2 separate regions of the Homo sapiens genome follow, and region 1 is linked to region 2. The links come from fine-mapping of genetic effects on gene expression. A gene starts in region 2. The other region holds a variant in brackets. All regions are shown on one strand. Distances are between the middles of the regions. Region 1 overlaps ZNF292 (zinc finger protein 292). Region 2 holds the start of SMIM8 (small integral membrane protein 8).

What was found.
Region 1: its variant is fine-mapped to the expression of SMIM8 in prefrontal cortex (BrainSeq, PIP 0.95).

The regions. Positions count from the first base shown.
Region 1 is chr6:87,261,076-87,263,999 of GRCh38, reverse strand. It overlaps ZNF292 (zinc finger protein 292), which reads right to left. Exons shown (of 8, transcript NM_015021.3): 8 at 1-2,924. The coding sequence ends at 2,199. Among named protein-coding and RNA genes, the nearest start is that of SMIM8, 60 kb to the left of the region's middle. The variant C/AC (reference allele first, on the strand shown) is at 1,490.
Region 2 is chr6:87,321,127-87,324,050 of GRCh38, reverse strand. It overlaps SMIM8 (small integral membrane protein 8), which reads right to left and starts at 1,463. Exons shown (of 4, transcript NM_001042493.3): 1 at 1,419-1,463. GJB7 (gap junction protein beta 7) reads left to right here. Exons shown (of 3, transcript NM_198568.3): 2 at 1,008-1,185. RefSeq lists a silencer at 1,352-1,641.

The DNA of each region.
Region 1 (2,924 bases), 60 kb after region 2:
GCAAACTCTTCCCCATGACATGTAAAACAATTAGAAATGTCTAGTTATAAATTTTCTTAAGCTAATGAGCAAAAGAAAAGCCCCAATACATTGGCATTTTCACTTAACAGTGGCTCATAGTTACAATGATCAGAAATAAACCTACTTGCTACTGTGCTATATAGGGCAGTTTTGCCAAGTGCCCACCTTTAAGAGCTAGGTCAATTTCTAAGAAAACTGTATGGAAACATTCAGTTGTTAACAAAAATTTAATATTAAAATTACTCAGTTATTTAAATTATTGTTAATTTAGGAAAAAGAAAACCCATGTATTAATCACCCATAAAATAACTTTTATTTTAATAAATAACAGTGGGCTCACCAAAGGGCAGGGATTTTAACGTGTCAGGTTTTATGCTTATTGGTAGTAAGTCTTAAACAGGTGAAATGAACTATTCAATAAAACCCAAAAGGCCCTAAAAATAAAATACTTTAATAATAAAAATTAAAAAGAAATTTCCAAAAGAAAATAGTTCACTCCTTGACCATGCTTATTTATTCAGAGTACCAGCGATTTCAGTAAGTGCTTCATTTTTCCTGCAAATCTGATGTTGCACAGGGAATGTACACATTTTCATACCATCACAATATCATCAATATCTCAGGCCAATAATATTGTGAATGCAACTGTTTTATAACAAACACAAAATAAAAAAAAACAATGTTACTATTTACGGCAAACAGAAACAAAAGTAAATATTGCAAAGATGTTTTCTTATGTTTCTACTACTGATTTTAGTTGGACTTTAAATGAAGGTCATCAACTCTCCTGGAATAACCTCTACCTCTCGCTGTGAATCCACAGTATAAATATGGTGAATAAAGCTAAACTGTAAGAGCTAACTATATACTGAATAACCAAAATAATTATAACTAATACTGTTCTTGAAGACCAATCTAATGAAAAAAGTATCATTAGATATGGTGAGAAATACAGACAAATCTGTACAATCTAACATCTATAAACAGTAAAATCAAAACATCCAACTTCCTTATAGAAAGTGTTTTATCTATGTAATTATAAATGTTAAGGACTCTTGTATTTTATAAACACAAGATGGGCTCACTTTGATGATATCAATTTTAAGATTTATAAAAATGTTTAAAAAAATCTTTCCACAAAACTTTATACAGTTTAAAGCTATACACCAATCTATAAATCTCAGAAAATGGAAAACAAAACAAAACAAAAAATCTTTATAAGATCACATGTATAAAACAAGAAATGAAATGTGATTTTATTTAAGGCAATACTGGGCTACTTCACAAATCACCACCTCAAATATTTACACTGCTCCACACTACTAGTTTTCTATCACATTCACAAAGGATTTTTTTTTAATACCAAATGTTTAAAATCTTCAATGTAGTAAATTCTTTATTCACATTTCCATTGTATTTCATGGACTCATAGTAACTATATCCAATTAGAAGCAATGAAAAAAAAAAA[C/AC]TGTAGCTATAGGAAACTGCTAGAGAATCTGCTTTAATTTCACATGAATACCACCCCAAAATCCTGGATGGCAAATTTACAAAGCAGAGCAAAGTGTTGATATAATGTGCCTATTTTGTGAAAAGTAATCTTGATATCATCTTGTAAATAAATGTTTCATGTAAAAATCAATGAACTATGGCAGAGTTTCTGGTTTTAGTTCAAAAAGTTCTTAATTTAAAACAATAAAAGAACAATTTAAAAAACTTGATCGCTTAGTTAAAAATTAAAATTCCAAATATAAATGTGTCATTTAATAGTTTAGACTTACAGACTGCTGGTGGCAGCACATGATTTACAATAATAAATATATACAAAAAAGGTATCTACAAATAAAGAGTACTGTTATACATGAGCAGTGACCTGGTGAAACATACCAATCACACAGATAATTGTTTAGTTCATGAAAAGGGCAACTGGGTGATAGAAATTTGAGGTTTAGCTCACTATTTACAATAACTGAAGTACTGATTCTGTTCCTCAAGTCCCATAGGGATAAAAAAAAGTTTTACATGACAAATGTCATGTTTTTTTTTTCTTTTTTGTTTTTGGCCAGGTTAATTCATGTCAACAACAAAAAAATATAATGAAAGTTTCACAATTCTAGCATGCTTGATGGCTTCCTATTTAAAATAAAATGGTAAATGATGTATTTATACTACATTAATTATCAGTACTGACCTCTGCCTGTGGCTTTACCTATACTGATATCTTTCATAACAGACATATCTGGATCATTTGAATGTACTTCAAGTTTTTTCAGACTGACGGTAGGTTTCATTTCCTGAAGTTGCTTTAAGACAAGCTCAGTGCAATCTTTAAGATTCTTGTCTAAAACAATTTTTACATTATCACTGCACTGAAGCTGTGATGGATTGGCAAACTGTACAAACGTTTCGCTTTCTTTACAAGGACATACATGATTTCCACTAGTCACAGCAGTCTTATCAATATTTTTTCTTGAATTTGAATGGGATCCTTTTTTGTTTCCAGTATTCGGATGGTCTTTGTCAGTATTTTTCTTCTGCTTCACTGCAGACTCCTCAAGAAACTTCAGAAATGATACTTCAAATCCCATTGGCTTAAAAGAGCTCCAGTCAAAAGATGCAGGATGCTCCTCAATGGTTTGAATGGCAACAGCAGTTTCTTCTTCTTTACGCACGCTACTTAACTCAGCTGCTGATGCTGGTTCAGCTTTTTCAACTTTCCTTTTTTTATTTTGTGAGACATTTTTTTCCTTATTAACTCTCTTCAAATTACTTGCTTTTTGTCTTTCTGACTGGCAGAGGTTATCTTCCTGAAAATCATTACTTACATTTGAAGAAGTATTAGCTTGGGTCTCTACACTTGTGCTATCTTCATTTATTAATTTTGTAATAAACAATTCTGTTAGTTC
Region 2 (2,924 bases):
CACACATGAAAAAATGCTCACCATCACTGGCCATCAGAGAAATGCAAATCAAAACCACAATGAGATACCATCTCACAGCAGTTAGAATGGCAATCATTAAAAAGTCAGGAAACAACAGGTGCTGGAGAGGCTGTGGAGAAACAGGAACACTTTTACACTGTTGGTGGCCTGTAAACCAGTACAACCATTGTGGAAGTCAGTGTGGCGATTCCTCAGGGATCTAGAACTAGAAATACCATTTGACCCAGCCATCCCATTACTGGGTATATACCCAAAGGACTATAAATCATGCTGCTGTAAAGACACAAGCACACGTATGTTTATTGCGGCATTATTCACAATAGCAAAGACCTGGAACCAACCCAAATGTCCAACAATGATAGACTGGATTAAGAAAATGTGGCACATATACACCATGTAATACTATGCAGCCATAAAAAATGATGAGTTCATGTCCTTTGTAGGGACATGGATGAAATTGGAAATCATCATTCTCAGTAAACTATCGCAAGAACAAAAAAGCAAACATCACATATTCTCACTCATAGGTGGGAATTGAACAATGGGAACACATGGACACAGGAAGGGGAACATCACACTCTGAGGTCTGTTGTGGGGTGGGGGGAGGGGGGAGGGATAGCATTGGGAGATATACCTAATGTTAGATGTCCAGTTGGTGGGTGCATCGCACCAGCATGGCACATGTATACATATGTAACTAACCTGCACATTGTGCACATGTACCCTAAAACTTATAATAATAACAAATAAATAAATAAACAAAACAAAACAAAAGTATCTTTCCACCTCTTGGATGTAGTACTGTCTCTGAAAAAAGGGGAAAGGCTTTGCTGGCGACAGCCTGAGTACTGACAATCTGAGTCTCATCTGGCTTCCCCCAATGTCATGGACTACTGTTCGGTGCCGAAGGCTTACTCAAAGACAGACGCATTGGAAGCCTCCAAAAGAAAACTTCATTCCGTTAAGTTCTACACATTGTGTTGCAGGGCTGAAAAAGCACGAGTGTCCGCACTATGACAAAAGAAAAGCGGCGTCTCCTCAAAACACCACCATGTTCCCCTATGAGTCTGGTGAGCCAAGACACTAAGAAACTGCAGGAAACGAGAGAGTTCTCGGGGTGGGGGTGTCCATGGATGAAGCACCGAACAAACTGGAGCCCGCAAGGTGAGTACGGGAAATGGGCTCTGTGGGGCCAGAGAGCTTCACCGACTTGGGGTGCGGGTACAGGGAGTCCACGGAGAGGCAAAGATTTGGGCTATCCGAGAGGACGCTCCCTCCCTGGGAGGGAGACCGGCAGGGCAGCTGGGAAGGGCAGAGACGGGAGCGTGATGGTGCGGCCGCCCTGGCCCCTCCAGGCCGGCGCCCAGCCACTCAACACCACCGAAGCCGCCGCTTACCTTTCGCGGGGTCACCTCCTCTCCTCGCCCGAGACGCCCCGCCCCGCTTCGCCGCCCCGCCTGCTAGAGAGAGCGGCGGAGGGCGCCCCGCCCGGCGCCACAGCGTCCCCTGTCTTCCGGAGGCTGCGGCGCAGCGGCGCGGGGCTGCGGGGACCCATCCAGTGCTAGCCTTTCCGGTTCTGAGGACCTCGCGCCCCTCCTTGGGGTCTGCGGGCTGAAGTGTGCAAGGGACGTTTTTGCTTTCTTCCCTTTTTGACCTTTAGTTTTCCACCTCCCAACTTCAAATTACGTTCCAGTTCGGTGTGTATGTTTGTATAAATAAAAGGAGACATCTCCTAGAAGTATGTTTATTTCATGAAAGTGGAAAGCATTCTGATTTGGGAAAGAAAGCTAGATCTGATTTCTTCCTACCCCTACTTTAGGGGAACAGTCATTTAAGTGTAGAGTTAATACTCTGCCATTACGTTAGGGCCTTGAGAGTCCAAGATGCAGGATGTATGCAGGTGCAGTTGAGACAAGAATAGATATAGGGATGCTGGTTTGCACATACTTTGCTGATGTTTAAGTTTGTTGGGATACACGTGAAAACTGATGTGGTTTGGCTCTGTGTCCCCACCCAAATCTCATATGGAATAATAGCCCCCTTGTGTTGAAGGAGGGGCCTGGTGAGAGGTCACTGAATCATGGGGCCGACTTCCCCCTTGCCATTCCCATGATGGAGTTCTCAGAAGATGTTTGTTTATAAGAGTGTAGCACTTCCCCCTTCACACTCTCTCTCTTTCTCTCTCTCTCCTGCACCACGGTAAGACGTGCTTGTTTCCTCTTCCACCATGATTGTAAGTTTCCTGAGGCCTCTGGAGCCATACCTCCTGTACAGCCTGTGGAACTGTGAGCTAATGAAACCTCTTTTCTTTATAAGTTACCCAGCCTCAGGTGGTTCTTTCTAGCAGTGTGAGAAGAGACTAATACAAAAACCAAAAATAAAATTCTAAGCACCACCATCACCAACCCACCCCTGAAAGGAATGGACCTCTGTCTTGGCCAAGGTAATCTCAAAAAAACCCTGAAAAATGAGTTCAGGCCCTGATGGGAAGGGGTGGGCGGTTGGATATGCCTCATTATACCTTCCTCCCGTTGGAGGTTAGACACAACTGACCAGCATTAACATTAAAACGGAGATCGTAAGACTGGTAAAATATACTGTAGCAATAAGAAAATTCCAACCTGACTCTGGAATAACATCACGTGACACATAGTGGGACCTGAAAGAAATAAAAATATGTTACCCCAAAATATATTTATTTGACTATTTTGAAATGGCCTCGCAAAGCTGTCTCTTGTTGGGGAAAACTTACATTCTATAGAAAATCTCTTTCCCTTACTAGATCTTTTTTTTTTTTTTTTTTGAGATGGAGTGTCGGAGTGTCACTCTGTCACCCAGGCTGGAGTGCAGTGGCATGATCTCGGCTCACTGCAACCTCCACCTCCTGGGTTCAAGCAATTCTC